2 separate regions of the Homo sapiens genome follow, and region 2 is linked to region 1. Evidence: fine-mapped expression QTL. A gene starts in region 1. The other region holds a variant in brackets. All regions are shown on one strand. Distances are from middle to middle. Region 1 holds the start of C8orf33 (chromosome 8 open reading frame 33). Region 2 has its middle 19 kb from the start of ZNF252P-AS1.

Region 1 (10,045 bases):
AAAAGGAACCAGGCCTCAAGGGATCCTGTGACTCTAATGGAGACTGATTAGGAGGAAAGGAACCAGGACTCAAGGGAACCTGTGTCTCTGAGTCTGAGTAGGAGGAAAGGAACAGCACCTCAAGGGAGCATGTGACTCTAACTGAGTCTGATTAGGAGGAATCAGGCCTCAAGGGAGCCTGTGACTTTAATGGAGCCTGTGACTCTGAGTCTGACTAGGAGGAAAGGAACCAGGACTCAAGGGAGCCTGTGGCTCTAGCCGAGTCTGTGTAGGAGGAAAGGAACCAGGCCTCAAGGGAGCCTGTGACTCTAACCGAATTTGAATAGTAGGAAAGGAACCACGCCTCAAGGGAGCATGTGACTCTAACTGAGTCTGAATAGGAGGAAAGCAGCCAGGCTTCAAGGGAGCCTGTGACTCTACCCACGTCTGATTAGGAGAAAGAGAACCTGGCTTCAAGGGAGCCTGTGATTCTAGCCAAGTCTGATTAGGAGGAAAGGAACCAGGCTTCAAGGCAGCCTGTGACTCTTGCCGAGTCTGAGTAGGAGGAAAAGAACCAGGTCTCAAGGGAGCCTATGACTCTAAGCGAGTCTGATTAGGAGTAAAGGAACCAGGCCTGAAGGGAGCCTGTGGTTCTACCGGAGTCTGATTGGGGGGAAAAGACCAGGCATGAGAAAACCAGGCTGTGGAGGGATATCGTTGCGGGCCTCATTACCTGGCCGAGAATTGAAAGCCTCCTCTCCGGGCTGTTCAGGTATCAGAGCCTCTGTACCGGGCTGCATGGAAACAATTTATAGCCTCGTTTTCAGGCTGCCTGATCTCATCCTCTGTCTGCAGGGTGGCAGCGTTGACAGGGTGAGGAGAAGCAGGGGGGTGCGTCCACAATGGTTGTTGGCATGTTTCAGCTGAGTTTTGCTGGTTGGGGGAAATAAGTTCATTCGGGTCAGTTAAAAGATCATCATAAAGCGACAACGGGGGTGCGGTAGCCTCTTGCATACGTGGTGGCGGCACAGGCATGTCAGAGTGGAATTCCGCCTGTGAAATTATGGTCTCAATTTGTGCAGTATCCTCAGGGGAAAGAGAAGTGAGAAATTCCTCGCCCTCCTCAGGGAGAGGAAAGAGGGATCAGTCTCCATGCTGTCCTGAGTCTGTAAGGAGTCTAGGACAGAGCGAACCGAAGCCCAGATTGACCAAATGGTGGGTGGAATAAAATGTCCCCCTTTATGAGCAATTTTGAATTGTTGGCCGATCTCATCCCAATCTTTAAGTTCTCAAGTTCCCTCAGTCGGAAACCAAGGGCAAAGAAGATTTACAACCGCAAATAGTTCAATTAACTTTTCAGTAGAAACTTAAACCCCTCCTTCTTTAAGAAGAGTTTTTATAAAATTTAAATAAGCTGAGTACTTAGTACTGGCTTGTACCATGGTGTCCCCAGAATACTCTGAGTGCTCAAGCTTACCACCAAGCTTACTAACAGCAATCCTCAGGAATCTCTTGTCAAAATCCTCCGCTGAATCCCGCACTCAGAGTGCAACCTCACACAGCGAGGGAGAGCCCCACATCAGAGCGCCAGATGTAGGGTCCAGCCCCACAGGGTCAGTGGGTTTTCTCCCCATGTGCAGAGATGAGAGATTGTAGAAATAAAGACACAAGACAAAGAGATAAAAGAAAAGACACCTGGGCCTGGGGGACCACTACCACCAAGACGCGGAGACCAGTAGTGGCCCCAAATGCCAGGCTGCACTGATATTTATTGGATATAAGACAAAGGGGCAGGGTAAGGAATGTGAACCATCTCCAATAATAGGTAAGGTCACATGGGTCATGTGTCCACTGGACAGGGGGCCCTTCCCTGCCTGGCAGCAGAGGCAGAGAGAGAGAGAAGAGAGAGAGACAGCTTATGCCATTATTTCTGCATATCAGACATTTAGTACTTTCACTAATTTGCTCCTGCTATCTAAAAGGCAGAGCCAGGTATACAGGATGGAACATGAAAGCGGACTAGGAGCGTGACCACTGAAGCACAGCATCACAGGGAGACAGGCCTCTGGATAACTGCGGGCGGGCCTGACTGATGTCAGGCCCTCCACAAGAGGTGGAGGAGTAGTCTTCTCTAAACTCCCCCGGGGAAAGGGAGGCTCCTTTTCCCAGTCTGCTAAGTAGTGGGTGTTTTTCCTTGACACTGATGCTACTGCTAGACCATGGTCCACTTTGCAACAGGCATCTTCCCAGACACTGGTGTTACTGCTAGACCAAGCCCTCTGGTGGCCCTGTCCGGGCATAAGAGAAGGCTCACACTCTTGTCTTCTGGCCACTTCGCACTATGTCCCCTCGGCTCCTATCTCTGTATGGCCTGGTTTTTCCTAGGTTATGATTGTAGAGTGAGGATTATTATAATATTGGAATAAAGAGTAATTGCTATAAACTAATGATTAATGATACTCACATATAATCATGTCTATGATCTAGATCTAGTATAACTCTTCTTATTTTATATATTTTATTATACTGGAACAGCTCGTGCCCTCAGTCTCTTTCCTCGGCACCTGGGTGGCTTGCCACCCACATAGGCAGTCATGCCATTCACTGAAAAGCAGAAGCCAAAGGAAAACCGGAGCCTAATCAAGTGTTTTAAACACATCAGGTTTGAAATGCCTATGAAGCACCCAAGTGGAAATGCTGAGTAGGCAGCTGGGCTCCAGGTATCAATCTAGTCTGGGAACTGAGTTTGGAAGATACCAGCAAACATCAAGCCACCAATGAGGATTAGGTCACCTGGAGATTCCCAATTCCATGGAACAGAGGGCCTGAGACTGAATGGCCAACATTTAGACAAGAAGTCTGCCAAGGCTCAATCCAGGTCTCAGGCCAGAACTGTTAGCGCAAGAAGCTCCTTGCTCCTAAGAACAGAGCCTGGCCTGGTAGGTGCCATGCTGGTTCCCTGAGGATGATACCTGCTCAGGAATGAAGGCAACATGCACAAAGGTACCAGGTGAGGGACTGGACCCAGGGATACCACACCCCTGCATCTTCTGTACTTCCTCTAACATAGGTGGTCAGCATACTCTTTCACTCCTTATCCAATTTTATCAAAAATAGAGATTAGGGCAATATGACATAACAGCATTAAGCACTAAACCATTTGACAGGGATTCCTTTCAAAAGTGAAAACCAGTGTACGATTATACAGCTTCTCCACTAATCTTTGTTACCAACAGCCACTTAATCTAATCCTAAAGACTGAGTACAATATTCCTTCTACAATACTTTGAACACTCACTTCAATTTATTGCATATTTTCTAAATGCACCTCTCTCTCTCTTCTGAAAGAGAGAACATTTCATCAGAAAACGAACGGGGTCTTTTGCCTATCTGATGGTCTCACACCTTCACAACAGCTACAAATCCTTGGACCAGCCAGGGACAGACCAACTCCAGGGTTCTCTGACAACAGAAGTCCTGGAAAGGCTCTGCACTCAAAACAAACCCCTACACCACCCCAAGGGAGGGGGATTGTTTCAGGTTCGGGGAGACGCTAAAAGAAATTGAACCTAAACTCTTCATCAGGCATGTCCAGAGTGGCTTTGGCTCTCCATATAGAGCGAGGCCTGCAGACCCTTTGGCTCTTCTTTCTGGTGGCTCCATCTACAGGTTGCACCTGGGCTGAATAAGCAGCTGTCGGGGAGAGAAGCAGCGTATGTCAGAACTGAATAATAACAATTAACATTACCTGTACAGTTATGTTTGCCCATACAATTCTAACCACCTTGCATAAATTAACTGATTAATTCCTCAAATTTGTAAGGTTGATATTACTATCATCCCCCACTTAGAGAGGTTCAGTAGTTTGCAAAAGGTGTTAGTACTACTATGTGGTAGATCCAGGATTTGAACCTAGCTGATCTGGCCCCAGGAATTGCACTCAAACTGTTATGGGATATGGCTTCATTGCTAGTAGAGAAAGCCAAGACACAAAGACATGAGGCAGCTTTCCCCAACCCAGGAGCAGGACCAACATAGGACCATGCTCTTTCCCACTCCTCCCAGGGCCTCCCCGCTGCTTCCCAGGTTCAGTCCTAGGAAGAGGAAAGAGAGGTCCACGCTTTCTGTTTCCCTGCTCCCTCAGGCTTCCCTGAGCCCATCTCCTTCCCCCACCAGGCTTGTTGCTCTGGGCCTTCTTCCTTTCACCCCCTAGACACTTCCTCCTTAAGTTAGGCCTTCCTGAATCAACCAGTGGCTAGCTCCTCACCAGCTCTGAGAGCCCGCAGGGCCTCACGCCATTCGGCTTCCATCTGAGCCCTATAGTCTCCAAACAAGGAGTGCATCAGCTGCCTCTTCCGGGGCAAGGGCGTTCTTTTGCTGCGCAGGGTTCGGATTGCTCCAATAGCCTGCTCTTCTGCGAATAAAAATAAAGGACTAGTGAACACCTCTATTACTGACCTCCTACCACCCCGCCGCAAAGCCAACAACTCCATACTCTGCCAGCACCTGCAGGCCAGGCAGTGCCACTGTTCACATCCCCCAGCTCTACAGAAGGGTCCCTTACTCTGTTTCGGGGTGGGTTTCTGCCTCTTGAGGCCCAGCTCCAGTTGCTCCACACACCAAGCCAATTCCTGGGCCAACTGTTGTGCCTGTGATGGATTTGGGGAAGTGGCTGTGAGAGGGCACTGGAAAACCATAGCCGCCGGCCCCATCCCATGCCCCTCCCCGCCTTAACTCCGCGGACCCCAGATCACACGTGCCCGTGGATTCGCACCCGTGGATTCCACCCTTCCCGACCGAAGCCCGCCCTTGCCTGGGCCTCAGCGCTTAGGGGAACTTCTTCTGGGGCGAGTTTCTCTGAGGCCTTCTCGCCTCCATTTGCCACAGAGGCCCTGTTCCGCGTTTTCTTCTTATTCTTTTGTTTTTTCGACGCTGTGCCGCCTTCATCGCCCAACGGGTGCGCTCTGGAGTCAGCGTTACTGCACGTAGGTTGCTCTGGGCAGAGACAGACAGTGGAAGGATTCCGGGCGCTGGAAACTGGGCCGGGAAGCCGGGCTCCGCGGGACGCGCAGGGAGTACCCGGGCCTGGGGCCGCCGCTGCCTCCCCAGCAAGATGTCCCAGGGCCTGGAGAAAGGGGGGTAGCACGAGGGTCACCGAGAGCCGCCAACAATGCAAGGCCCAGCCACCCGCGCGTCTTCTCCACACCGCTCACCGCCATGCGCCGCAGTCGCCACCGGAACTACGCGGGGCGCAGAGTCCGACGCCGAATTCCGTCCTTCAAGAACGCGCCTGCGACTCTAGGTTCCGCGGGGCGCGGGCGGGGCGCGGGCGGGGCGCGGGCGGGGCGCGGGCGGGGCGCGGGCGGGGCGCGGGCGGGGCGCGGGCGGGGCGCGGGCGGGGCGCGGGCGGGGCGCGGGCGGGGCGGGGCGCGGGCGGGGCGCGGGCGGGGCGGGGAGCGGGCGGGGCGGGGCGCGGCTGGGGTGGGATGAAGCTGGGACGGGGCGAAGCTGGGACGCGCCTGGGACGAAGCTGAGATGGGGCTGGGGCGGGGCCTGGGGGTTCGGGGAAGAGGCTGAAGAGGGGTCTCGGAAGAACCCTTGTGAGCGAGTGATCGCGGGCGCTGACTACGTGCCCGGCACCTTTCCGGATAAAAGTTCAAAGCTCTCCACGAGGGTGTGTCTTCTCAAGGCTCACCTTTTGGTGGGGAGGGAAAAGCAAGTAAACAGCACGTGAGCAGCTACGGCGCAAGAGGGTGGTCGGCAAAGACCCTGGGAAATGGGGAAGAGCGAGGGTCAGGGCGCGGTCGTTTGAGAGGCCGGCGTCTCGGGACGTGGAGGCTCGGGTGAGGTCTGAGAGTTGGGAGGGCCCCCGTCATGGGCTTACTTCCGTTCTAACGCAGTGGGAAGTCGCTGCAAGATGTAAATCTGAAGAGTGGCATAATCGTAGACGTATGTTCTGCAGATCTCTCTGCTCTTGTGTAACGAGTGGGGCACATGGGGTGGAGGGACGTGGAGGGGTTTCAGAAGCAGACGCGGGAAGAGCCTTGGACAGGATATGGACGTGAGGGAGGGTGGCGGTATGGGGGAGAGGGAGAGCCCCATCCCACCACCTCTCTTCCCCTGGATGCTTCCCTCCCACTATACCTTGCTAGAGACCTGGGGTCACACACAACACTCGACCCCCGCCGATGGAGGCATGACAACCGAGAGGAATTGCGTAGGGGTTGAGGTGAGGCTGAGTAGGGTTTCAGGGGGGCAACGGGCTATGCCAGGAGGGTGGGTTGTGTTGCTTGAGAAGGTAAGAGTCCGAGATGTCTGATGATTCCTTTCGGGGACACAGGAGTGGAAAGCGGTGTTTCCTGAGACGGTGGGGTGGGAAGTGTTAGCTGCCTGGTCTGCAAGGTCTCGAAGGGTTACAGTTTGGTCATCACTGATAGTTATTTACTGCAGTGTGATACATTACTCCCAAAATTCGGCGGATTGGCCGGGCGCGGTGACTCACGCCTGTAATCCCAACACTTTGGGAGGCCGATGCGGGCGGATCACGAGGTTAGGAGTTTGAGACCATCCTGGCTAACATAGTGAAACCCCGTCTCTACTAAAAAATACCAAAAAATTAGCCGGGCATAGTGGCGGGCACTTGTAGTCCCAGCTACTCGGGAGGCTGAGGCAGGAGAATGGCATGAACCCGGGAGGTGGAGCTTGCAGTGAGCCAAGATCGCACCGCTGCACTACAGCCTGGGTGACAGAGCGAGACTCCATCTAAAAAAAAAAAAAAAAAAAAAACACGCAGAATTTAAACGGGACACGCAGTAAAGGAGATGCGGCATACAGTAATTTATTACAAAGGAGAAAGAATATTTGGAAAGTTAAGTGAACAATAGACAGTACACCCTGAGAGAGAGAGAGAGGATTGAGGGCCAGCTGCTCATAAGGTTGGGGCAGCAAAGACGCATGAGGGAGACTCCCTTTATGGGGGTCTTACATGATTATTCATAAGGAATTGGGAAGAGGTGCTACTAGTGAGTATGTTCTGGATGGTCCTCTGAGTGCACATGTGCGGTAGCTGTATGTTCTTACATGCTTGTTCATACAATGCTTCTTGTCATACAATGCTTGTTCTACATGCTGGTATATGATTGTTCGTACATGTCACATGTCTTATTAGCATCTTAAACCTCCAACCAGGGCTCTGTTTTTTACTATTATAATGAGCGAAAGGTCAGTCTGAGGACAGGTAAAATCAAAATGTACATGCTCTTTGCAGGGGAAATTCTCTACTGAAGATAGTTTTGCTTGAAAGAGCTTAACCACAATGTGAAGGCAGAGGCTTATTGTGCTGATTGCACAGTCACAACAGTTGCTGCATCCCGAGGACATGGTTACTTCCTTGACTACCTATCCTGCCTCACTTTCAATGCTCTGATTTTATCCATTACCTTCCTGACTCATATGCTATTTTTGTCTTGACTTCATTTCTATCTTTGTTTTTAAATCTGCCATATTAGACTTAATTCTATTTACAGTCAGTGTTTTCAAATATACAACTTTTGTTTTTCTTAGAGTCCATGTCTCACTCTGTCACCTAGGTTGTCCTGGGCTCAACTGATCCTCCCTCCTGCCTCAGCCTCCCAAGTAGCTGGGACCACAGGCATGCACCATCATACCAGCTAATTTTGTAATTTTTTGTAGAGATGGGGTCTCACCAGGATGCCCAGGCTGGTCTTGAACTCCTGGGCTCAAGCAATCTTCCCACCTCAGCCTCCCATGCCTGGCATCATTCCTTATATCTCAGTTCTGATATCATTTCTTTAAATGTACATCCTTTTAAAGCTCCTTTAATGAAATCTGTTATGGTGTTTTGGGTTTTGCTCATCTGAAAATGCCTATTTTTATTCTAATTCCTGGAGGATAGTTTGGATAGAAACACAATTTGAGGTTAACAGTTATTGTCTCTCAGAATTTTGAAAATGAGCCATCTCTGTAGACCTCTCCCACCTCTGGGACCCCACTCAACCCTGTATTCTTACCTCTATTACTGTACTGATGTGGTTATCTGTCTCTACATACCTTTGTATCCCAACTAGACTGAGAGATATGAGGAAAAGAGGCCAAGTGTTTCTGCATCTCTGATTTGCCATTGTCAGGCACACTACCAGGCACATAGGGGCTGCACAGTAATTGTAGGTTGATGTAATCATGAATAACCTTGGATTTGAACTGTTGCCTTTCCAGTGCTATATTTTCTATGGTTCCTCTTGTGGCAGGAAACATGAGTCTTCAGAAAAGATTTTTCCATAGTTAGCAAATCACACCAAAATATTTATTAAGGGGCTGAATGAATAAGGCAATGGGATGGGTACGGTGAAAGAACAAGAGAAGTACCCTGACCTTGAAGGACACAGTTTAAGAAAACAGATATCCAGGCTGGGCACAGTGGCTCCGCATATAATCCCAGCACTTTGAGAGGCCAAGGCAGGCAGATTGCCTGAGCCCAGGAGTTTGAGACCAGCCTGGGCAACATGGTCTCTACAAAAAATTTAAAAAATTAGCCGGTTGTGGTCCCAGCTACTTGGGAGGCTGAGGCAGGAGGATTGCTTTGGGCAGCGGTGGGAAGGGGGATGGTGCAGGGGCGGATGTTGCAGTGAGCCAAAATTCTACGACCACCCTCCAGCCTGGGTGACAGAGAAAGACCTAGTCTCAAAAAAAAAAAAGAAAAAAGAAAGAAAGAAAACATATATCTAAATATGTTTATATATACTGTGTCTCCATTAACATAATTACAAGTTTGGATCACATTTTACTTTTATTTTTTTCTCATTTTTTTCTATGATAAAGCCTGATTTTTTAAACTTAAAATTAGCCTGAAGACTTTGTCACAGTATTTATGTTCATAAAGTTTATTGATAGAGTGGATTTTCTGCTACTGAACAGGCTCTAAACTATTAAAGACTACATACCCTGATACTTAATAAGTTTTGACACATAATATAAGGTTTTTGCACATGCATGAGATTCATAGGCTTTGTCTCTTCTTTGATTCTTTTTGATCCAGAAAGTGGTATGAATTCTGTATGGTCTTCCCATATTCACTGTACCCATAGGGTTTCTCTTTACCTGGAACTGCCTTAGGTTCTGCAGGGGCTATGAATCTACAAAAAAACTTTCCTACATTTACTGTAGTTATCAGATTTCATTCCAATGTGAATCTGCTGATGTATAACAAGGGTTGGATTCTGACCAAACACCTTCCCACATTCATTACACTCCTGTAATTTCTCTCTGTGATGAATATCCTGATGTCAAATAAGGTACAAATTTGGATGGGAATTTTTGCCAAATTCCTTGCATTCATATGGCTTATTTCCTGTGTGGATCCTATGATGTGAAATAAGGTGTGACCTGTAACTAAAGGCTCTTCCACATTCATTTACATTCATATGGTTTCTCTCAGCATGAACTCTGACAGAATAAGATTTAAACTCTGGATGAAAGTTTTCCCACATTCATTACATCCATTAGGTTTCACTCCAGTGTTAATTATCTGATTTTTAGCAAGTGCTGAGCTCCAATTGAAGGCTTTCCACATTGATTGCATTCACGGGCCTTTTCTCTACTGTGAATTATCTGCTGCTGAATAAGGTGTGATTTTGAATGGAAAGCTCTTCCACAGTAATTACATACTTATGACTTCTTTCCACTGAATTTTTTGATGCTGAATTAGGTGTGAGCTCTGTGCAAAGGTTTTCTCATACTTTCTGTATTCATGAGATATTAAATCTTTGGTACTTAATACATTTCTGGATAAAAGCTTTCCCACATTCATAATATTCATAAGGTTTCTCTCCAGTAAGAACTTTTATTTATTTATTTTTTGACACAGTATTACTCTGTAGCACAGGATGGAGTGCAGTGGCACAATCTCAGCTCACTGCAGCCTCCTCCCTCTGAGGTCAAGTGATTCTGCTGCCTCAGCCTCCTGAGTAGCTGGGATTACAGGCACCCACCACCAACCCTGGCCGATTTTTGTATTTTTAGTAGAGACAGAGTTTCACCATGCTGGCCA
Region 2 (10,045 bases), 31 kb after region 1:
CTCAGGGCCTGGGAAAAGATTCAGGACCCAGGAACCAGTTAGAGACAGTTTTCAGACTGTTATATCATTCATTATGTTGATGATATTTTGTGTGCTGCAGAAACAAGAGACAAATTAATTGACTTTTACATGTTTCTGCAGACAGAGGTTGCAAACACAGGCCTGACAATAGCATCTGATAAGATTCAGACCTCCACTCCTTTTAATTATTTGGGAATGCAGGTAGAGGAAAGAAAAATTAAACCACAAAAAATAGAAATAAGAAAAGACACATTAAGAACATTAAATGACTTTCAAAAATTGCTAGGAGATATTAATTGGATTGGGCCAACTCTAGGCATTCCTACTTATGCCATGTCAAATTTGTTTTCTATCTTGAGAGGGGATCCAGACTTGAATGGTAAAAGAACAATAACTCCAGAGGCAACTAAAGAAATTGAATTAGTTGAAGAAAAAATTAATTCAGCACAAGTAAATAGAATAGATCACTTAGCCCCACTCCAATTTTTGATTTTTGCTACTGCACATTCTCCAACAGGCATTATTGTTCAAAATACAGATCTTGTGGAGTGGTCATTCCTTCCTCACAGTACAGTTAAGACTTTTACATTGTACTTAGATCAAATGGCTACATTAATTGGTCAGACAAGACTACGAATAGTAAAATTGTGTGGAAGTGACCCAGATAAAATCATTGTTCCTTTAAACAAGGAACAGGTTAGACAAGCCTTTATCAATTCTGCTGCATGGCAGATTGGTCTAGCTGATTTTGTGGGAATTATTGATAATCATTACCCAGAAACAAAAATCTTCCAGTTTTTAAAATTGACTACTTGGATTTTACCTAAAATTACCAGACAAAAACCTTTAGAAAATGCTCTGACAGTGTTTACTGATGGTTTCAGCAATGGAAAAGTGGCTTACACTGGGCCAAAAGAATGAGTCATTGAAACTCAATATCACTCAGCTCAAAGAGCAGAATTGGTTGCTGTCACTTCAGTGTTACAAGATTTTAATCAGCCTATTAACATTGTTTCAGATTCTGCATATATAGTACAGGCTACAAAGGCTACAAAGCTCTAATCAAATATAGTATGGATTATCAGTTAAATCATCTGTTTAAATTGTTACAACAAACTGTAAGAAAAAGAAATTTCCCAGTTTATATTACTCATATTCGAGCACATACTAATTTACCAGGGCAATTAACTAAGGAAAATGAACAAGCTGACTTGCTAGTATCATCTGCCTTGATGGAAGCACAAGAACTTCATGTCCTGACTCATGTAAATGCAACAGGATTAAAAAATAAATTTGATATCACATGGAAACAGGCAAAAAATATTGTACAACATTGTGCTCAGTGTCAAGTCTTACACCTGCCCACTCAGGAGGCAGGAGTTAATCTCAGAGATTTATGTCCTAATGCATTATGGCAAATGGATGTCACACATGTACCTTCATTTGGAAAATTGTCATTTGTCCGCGTGACAGTTGATACTTATTCACATTTCATATGGGCAACCTGCCAGACAGGAGAAAGTACTTCCCATGTTAAAATACATTTATTATCTTATTTTGCTGTCATGGGAGTTCCAGAAAAAATTAAAACAGATAATGGGCCAGGATACTGTAGTAAAGCATTTCAAAAATTCTTAAATCAGTGGAAAATTACACATACAACAGGAATCCCTTATAATTCCCAAGGACAGGCCATAATTGAAAGAACTAATAGAACACTCAAAGCTCAATTGGTTAAACAAAAAAGGGAAAAAGACAGTAAGGAGTATAACACTTCCCAGATGAACTTAATCTAGCACCCTATACTTTAAATTTTTTAAACATTTATAGAAATCAGACCACTACTTCTGCAGAACAACATTTTACTGGTAAAAAGAACAGCCCACATGAGGGAAAACTGATTTGGTGGAAAGACAACAAAAGTAAAACTTGGGAAACAGGGAAGGTGATAACATGGGGGAGAGGTTTTTCTTGTGTTTCACCAGGAGAAAATCAGCTTCCTGTTTGGATACCCACTAGACATTTGAAGTTCTACAATAAACCCATCCCATCAGAAATGCAAATAAAAGTGCCTCCACAGAGACAAAAAACCTGCAGTTGAGCATCATCGACCCACCAGGTGAACAAAATGGTGATATCAGAAGAACAGATGAAGTTGCCATCCACCAAGAAAGCGGAGCCGCCAACCTGGGCCCAGCTAAAGAAGCTGACACAGTTAGCTGAAAAAAGTCTGAAAAACACAAGGGTAACACAAACTCCAGAGAATATGCTGCTTGCAGCTTTAATGATTGTATCAATGGTGGTAAGTCTCCCTATGTCTGCAGGAGCCGCTACAGCTAACTATACTTACTGGGCCTATGTGCCTTTCCGACCCTTAATTCGGGCAGTCACTTGGATAGATAATCCTATTGAAGTATATGTTAATAATAGTGCATGGGTACCAGGCCCCACAGATGACCGTGGCCCTGCCCAACCTGAAGAAGAAGGAATGATGATAAACATTTCCATTGGGTATCATTATCCTCCTATTTGCCTGGGAAAAGCACCGGGATGCTTAATGCCTACAAACCAAAATTGGTTGGTAGAAGTACCTACTGTCAGTGCTACCAGTAAATTCACTTATCACAGGTAAGTGAAATGTCACTCGGGTCACAAATAAATAATTTACAGGATTCTTCCTATAAAAGATCATTAAAATTTAGGCTTAAGGGAAAATCTTGCCCCAAGGAAATTCCAAAAGAATAAAAAGACTCAGAAGTCTTAGTTTGGGAAGAATGTGTGGCTGATACTGCGGTGGTATTACAAAACAATAAATTTGGAACTATTATAAACTGGGCCGCTTGAGGCCAATTATATTATGATAGTACAGGCCAGACCCACTCATGTTCACAGGCTCCATCAGTCTGGCCCACTAATCCGGCCTATGATAGTGATTTAACTAAAAGGCTAGACCAGGTTTATAGAAGGCTAGAATCACCCTATCCATGGAAATGGGGTGAAAAGGGGATTTCATCACCCCGCCCAAAGTTAGTTAGTCCTGTTGTTGCTCCTGAACACCCAGAATTATGGAAGCTCACTGTGGCCTCATACCACATTAGAATTTGGTCTGGAAATCAAGTTATGGGAACAAGAAATCATAAACCATATTTTACTATTAACCTAAAATCCAATCCGACAATTCCTTTGCAAAGTTATGTAAAACCCCCTCATATGCTAGTTGTAGGAAACATAGTTATTAAACCAGATTCCCAAACTATAACCTGTGAAAATTGTAGATTGTTTACTTGCATTGATTCAACTTTTGATTGGCAGCATCGTATTCTGTTAGTGAGGGCAAGAGAGGGTGCGAGGATCCCTGTGTCCATGGACCGACCGTGGGAGGCTTCTCCATCCGTACATATCTTAACAGAAGTATTAAAAGGAGTTCTAACTAGATCTAAAAGATTCATTTTTACTTTAATTGCAGTGATTATGGGTCTTATTGCAGTCACAGCTGCTGCTAGGGCTGCTGTAATTGCTTTACCCTCCTCTGTTCACACTGCAGAATATGTGAATAATTGGCAAAAGAATTCCTCAAAATTGTGGAATTCTCAGACTCAAATAGATCAAAAATTGGCAAATCAAATTAATGATCTTAGACAAACTGTCATTTGGATGGGAGATAGGCTCATAAGTTTGGAATATCTTTTTCAGTTACTGTGTGACTACAATACATCAGATTTTTGTATTACACCTCAAGCCTATAATGAATCTGAACATCACTGGGACATGGTTAGATGCCATCTACAAGGAAGAGAAGATAATCTTACTTTAGATATTTCAAAATTGAAAGAACAAATTTTTAAAACATCCAAAGCCCAGTTAAATTTGGTGCCAGAAACTGAGGCAATGGAAAAAGCTGTTGATAGCCTCACGAATCTTAAACCTGTCACTTGGGTTAAAACCATTGGAAATTCCACTATTGCAAATTTTGTATTAATCCTTGTATGTCTGTCCTCTCTATTGTTAGTCTACAGGTGTATCCAGCAGCTCCGGAGAGACAGCGGCTAGCGAGAACGGACCATGATGATGATGGCGGTTTTGTCAAAAAGAAAAGGGGGATATGTAGGGAAAAGAGAGAGAGATCAGACTGTTACTGTGTCTATGTAGAAAGGGAAGACATAAGAGACTCCATTTTGAAAAAGACCTGTACTTTGAACAATTGCTTTGCTCAGATGTTGTTAATTTGTAGTTTTGCCCCAGCCACTTTGACCCAACCTGGAGCTCATAAAAACATGTGTTGTATGAAGTCAAGGTTTAAGGGATCTAGGGCTGTGCAGGATGTGCCTTGTTAACAAAATGTTTACAAGCAGTATACTTGGCAAAAGTCATTGCCATTCTCTAGTGTCAACAAACCACAGGCATAATGCACTGCAGAAACCCACAGGGAACTCTGCCCTTGAAAGCTGGGTATCGTCCAAGGTTTCTCCCCATGTGATAGTCGGAAATATGGCCTCATGAGATGAGAAAGACCTGACTGTCCCCCAGCCCGACACCCGTAAAGGGTCTGTGCTGAGGTGGATTGGTAAAAGAGGAAAGCCTCTTGCAGTTGAGATAGAGGAAGGCCACTGTCTCCTGCCTGCCCCTGGGAACTGAACGTCTTGGTATAAAACCCGATTGTACATTTGTTCAATTCTGAGATAGGAGAAAAACCGCCCTATGGTGGGAGGTGAGACATGTTGGCAGCAATGCTGCCTTGTTATTCTTTACTCCACTGAGATGTTTGGGTGGAGAGAAACATAAATCTGGCCTATGTGCACATCCAGGCATAGTACTTTCCCTTGAACTTAATTATGACATAGATTCCTTTGCTCACATGCTTTTTGCTGACCTTCTCCTTATTATCACCCTGCTCTCCTACTACATTCCTTTCTGCTGAAATCATGAAAATAATAATCAATAAAAACTGAGGGAACTCAGAG[A/G]CCGGTGCCGGTGCAGGTCCTTGGTGTGCCGAGTGCCGCTCTCCTGGGCCCACTGTTGTTTCTCTATACTTTGTCACTGTGTCTTATTTCTTTTCTCAGTCTCCCATCCCACCTGACTAGAAATACCCACAGGTGTGGAGGGGCAGGCCACCCCTTCAGATTATCAAGAACTCCAATGAAGCCAGCTAAATCTATTTGCCAATTGACTGAATTAACAAAGGCTTTCCAAATCTGATTTTTATTCATTGGAACTATAATCTTATCTGGATCTGAGCCACAAAGTTTAACAACTCTAAGGTGAGCTTGCCCAATCAAGATTGCCATCTGATCCAAGTATACTGTGAGTGTTCTAACAGTATTGTGAGGCAGAAAAGACCATTCAACTAAGTCCTCACTCTGAACTGTAACCCCTGTAGAAGAATGGAGAGTAGGGAACACAATGAACTGTAATGGTAAATTTGAGTCTATTCTATTAACCTGGGCCTGTTGTATTTTTTCTTCAATCATTTGTAATTCTTTGGCAGTCTCAGGAGTCAGTTCTCATTTACTATTGAGAGCAGGGTCACCTCTTAAAATAGAGAACAGATTAGACATAGCATAGGTAGGGATTCCCAAAGGAGGTCAAATCCAATTGATATCCCCTAATAATTTTTGAAAATCATTTAAAGTTTTCAGAGAGTCTTTTTGAATTTGAACCTCTTGGGGTCTAATTGCCCTTTCCTGATCCTGCATTCCCAAATATTGGAAAGGAGTGGATGTTTGAATTTTATCTGGTGCTATGAGCAATCCAGCATTGGCTACCACCTCCTGTAAATATGAATAACACTGGATAAGTCAGTCTTAACTTTTGACCGTACCCAATATGTCATCCATAAAATGAATGATATATGAATCAGGAAACTGATCTCTCACAGGTGGAATAGCCTTCCCCACAAAAGTTTGACAAATAGTAGGACTATTCAACATATCCTGCAGCAGGACTTTCCAATGATATCTGGCTGCTGGTTCCTTGTTGTTCATAGCAGGAATAGTAAAAGCAAATTTCACAAAATCAGACTCTGCTAGAAGAATATTTAAAAAGCAATCCTTCAAATCTATAATTACTAATGGCCAGTCTCTAGGAATCATGGTGGGGGATAGAAGCCCCAGCTGCAGGGCCCCAATCAGCTGAATGAATGTGTTCACCACACGTAAGTCGGTTAGCATGCGCCATCTGCTGGATTTTTTCTTTATTACAAACACCGGCAAATTCTATGGAGAAAATGTGGGCTCAATGCTTCCTTTGTTTAATTGCTCTTTGACTAATTCCTGTAAGGCCCCCAATTTTTCCTGAGTAAGTGGCCACAGCTCAACCCAAACAGGATTTTGGGTCTTCCATTTTAAGGGAATAGGACTTGGAGGCTCAACAGTGACCACCCCTAAAAATGGTAACCTACATGGGAGGTTCCAAGATGGCCAAATAGGAACAGTTCCAGTCTAGAGCTCCCAGCATGAGCGATGCAGAAGACAGGTGATTTCTGCATTTCCAACTGAAATACCAGGTTCATCTCACTGGAGCTTGTCAGACAGTGGGTGCAGGACAGTGGGTGCAGCCCACCGAGTGAGACCTGAAGCAGGGCAAGGCACCACCTCACCTGGGAAGTGCAAGGGGTCAGGGAATTCCCTTTCCTAGCCAAGGGAAGCTGTGACAGATGGCACCTGGAAAATCGGGTCACTCCCACCCTAATACTGTGCTGTTCCAATGGTCTTAGCAAATGGCACACCAGGAGATTATTTCCTACACCTGGCTTGGAGGGTCCCACACCCATGGAGCCTTGCTCATTGCTAGCACAGCAGTCTGAGATCGAACTGCAAGGTGGCAGCAAGGCTGGGGGAGGGGCGCCCACCATTGCTGAGACTTCAGTAGGTAAACAAAGCGGCTGGGAAGCTTGAACTGGATGGAGCCCACTGCAGCTCAAGGAGGCCTACCAGCCTCTGCAGACTCCACCTCTGGGTGCAGGGCATAGCTGAACAAAAGGCAGCAGAATCTTCTGCAGACTTAAATGTCCCTGTCTGACAGCTTTGAAGAGAGTAGTGGTTCTCCCAGCATGGAGTTTGAGATCTGAGAACAAACAGACTGCCTCCTCAAGTGGCTCCCTGACACCTGAGTACCCTAACTGGGAGGCACCTCCCAGTAGGGGCTGACTGATACCTCACACGGCCGGGTACCCCTCTGAGATGAAGCTTCCAGAGGAATGATCAGGCAGCAACATTTGCTATTCTGCAATATTCGCTATTCTGTAGCCTCTACTGGTCATATCCAGGCAAACAGGATCTAGAGTGGACCTCCAGCAAACTCCAACAGACCTGCAGCTGAGGGTTCTGACTATTAGAAGGAAAACTAACAAACAAAAAGTACATCCACACCAAAACCCCATCTGTACGTGACCATCATCAAAGACAAAAGGTAGATAAAAACACAAAGATGGGGAGAAGCCAGAGCAGAAAAGCTGAAAATTCTAAAAATCAGAGCACCTCTTCTCCTCCAAAGGAATGCAGCTCCTCACCAGCAATAGATCAAACCTGGATGGAGAATGACTTTGATGAGTTGAGAGAAGAAAGCTTCAGATGATCAAACTTCTCTGAGCTAAAGGAGGATGTTTGAACCCATCACAAAGAAGCTAAAAACCTTGAAAAAAGATTAGACGAATGGCTAACTGAATAACCAGGGTAGAGAAGACCTTAAATGACCTGATGGAGCTGAAAGCCATGGCACGAGAACTACATGTGCAAGCTTCAGTAGCTGATTCAATCAACTGGAAGAAAGGGTATCAGTGATTGAAGATCAAATGAATGAAATGATGTGAGAAGAGAAGTTTAGAGAAAAAAGAGTAAAAAGAAATGGAACAAAGCCTCCAAGAAATATGGGACTATGTGAAAAGACCAAATCTACATCTGATTGGTGTACCTGAAAGTGATGGGGAGAATGGAACAAAGTTGGAAAACAGTTTTCAGGATATTATCCAGGAGAATTTCCTCAACCTACCAAGGCAGGCCAACATTCAAATTCAGGAAATACAGAGAATGCCACAAAGATACTCCTCAAGTAGAGCAACTCCAAGACACATAATTGTCAGATTCACCCAAGTTGAAATGAAGGAAAAAATGTTAAGGGCAGCCAGAGAGAAAGGTCGAGTTACCCACAAAGGGAAGCCCACCAGACTAACAGTGGATCTCTCAGCAGAATCTCTACAAGCCAGAAGAGAGTGGAGGCCAATATTCAACATTCTTAAAGCAAAGAATTTTCAACCCAGAGTTTCATATCCAGCCAAACTAAGCTTCATAAGTGAAGGAGAAATAAAATCCTTTACAGACAAGCAAATGCTGAGAGATTTTGTCACCACTGGGCCTGCCTTACAAGAGCTCCTGAAGGAAGCACTAAACATGGAAAGGAAAAACCAGTACCAGCCACTGCAAAAACATGCCAAATTGTAAAGACCATCGATGCTAGGAAGAAACTGCATCAACTAATGAGCAAAATAACCAGCTAACTCAAAATGACAGGATCAAATTCACACATAACAATATTAACCTTAAATGTAAATGGGCTAAATGCTCCAATTACAAGACACAGACTGGCAAATTGGATAAAGAGTCAAGACCCATCAGTGTGCTGTATTCAGGAGACCCATCTCATGTGCAGAGACACACATAGGCTCAAAATAAAGGGATGGAGGAAGATCTACCAAGCAAATGGAAAACAAAAAAAAGCAGGGGTTGCAATCCTAGTCTCTGATAAAACAGGCTTTAAACAACAAAGATCAAAAGAGACAAAGAAAGCCATTACATAATGGTAAAGGGATCAACTCATCAAGAAGAGTTAACTATCCTAAATATATATGCACCCAATACAGGAGCAACCAGATTAATAAGGCAAGTCCTTAGAGACCCACAAAGAGACTTAGACTCCCACACAATAATAATGAGAGATTTTAACACCCCACTGTCAACATTAGACAGATCCACAGGACAGAAAGTTAACAAGGATATCCAGGAATTGAACTCAGCTCTGCACAAACAGACCTAATAGACATCTACAGAACTCTCCACCCCAAATCAACAGAATATACATTCTTCTCAGCACCACATCGCACTTATTCCAAAATTGACCACATAGTTGGAAGTAAAGCACTCCTCAGAAAATGTAAAAGAACAGACATTATAACAAACTCTCAGACCACAGTGCAATCAAACTAGAACTCAGGATTAAGAAACTCACTTAAAACCGCTCAACTACATGGAAACTGAACAACCTGCTCCTGAATGACTACTGGGTACATAACGAAATGAAGGCAGAAATAAAGATGTTCTTTGAAACCAATGAGAAAAAAGACACAACATACCAGAATCTCTGGGACACAATTAAAGCAGTGTGTAGAGGGAAATTTATAGCACTAAATGCCCATAAGAGAAAGCAGGAAAGATTTAAAATTGACACCCTAACATCACAATTAAAAGAACTAGAGAAGCAAGAGCAAACACATTCAAAAGCTAGCAGAAGGCAGGAAATAACTAAGATCAGAGCAGAACTGAAGGAGATAGAAACACAAAAAAACCCTTCAAAAAATCAATGAATCCAGGAGCTAGTTTTTGAAAAGATCAACAAAATTGATAGACCACTAGCAAGACTAATAAAGAAGAAAAGAGAGAAGAATAGATGCAATAAAAAATGATAAAGGGGTTATCACCACCAATCCCACAGAAATACAAAACTACCATCAGAGAATACTATAAACACCTCTATGCAAATAAACTAAAAAAGCTAGAGGAAATGGATAAATTCCTCGACACATACACACTCCCAAGACTAAACCAGGAAGAAGTTGAATCTCTGAATAGACCAATAACAGGCTCTGAAATTGAGGCAATAATAAATAGCCTACTAACCAAAAAAAGTCCAGGACCAAATGGATTCACAGCCAAAATCTACCAGAGGTATAAGGAGGAGCTGGTACCATTCCTTCTGAAACTATTCCAATCAATAGAAAAAAAGGGAATCCTCCCTAACTCCTTTTAGGAGGCCA

The links.
Region 2: its variant is fine-mapped to the expression of C8orf33 in blood mononuclear cells (TOPMed, PIP 0.99).

The regions. Positions count from the first base shown.
Region 1 is chr8:145,047,645-145,057,689 of GRCh38, reverse strand. It overlaps C8orf33 (chromosome 8 open reading frame 33), which reads right to left and starts at 5,223. Exons shown (of 5, transcript NM_023080.3): 1 at 5,193-5,223; 2 at 4,793-5,104; 3 at 4,544-4,628; 4 at 4,247-4,393; 5 at 1,660-3,672. The coding sequence starts at 5,198. The coding sequence ends at 3,533. It also overlaps the pseudogene LOC100419763. RefSeq lists enhancers at 3,849-4,649, 5,578-5,627, 5,668-5,797 and a silencer at 5,298-5,367.
Region 2 is chr8:145,016,339-145,026,383 of GRCh38, reverse strand. It overlaps the pseudogene LOC124902043. Among named protein-coding and RNA genes, the nearest start is that of ZNF252P-AS1, 19 kb to the right of the region's middle. The variant A/G (reference allele first, on the strand shown) is at 4,983.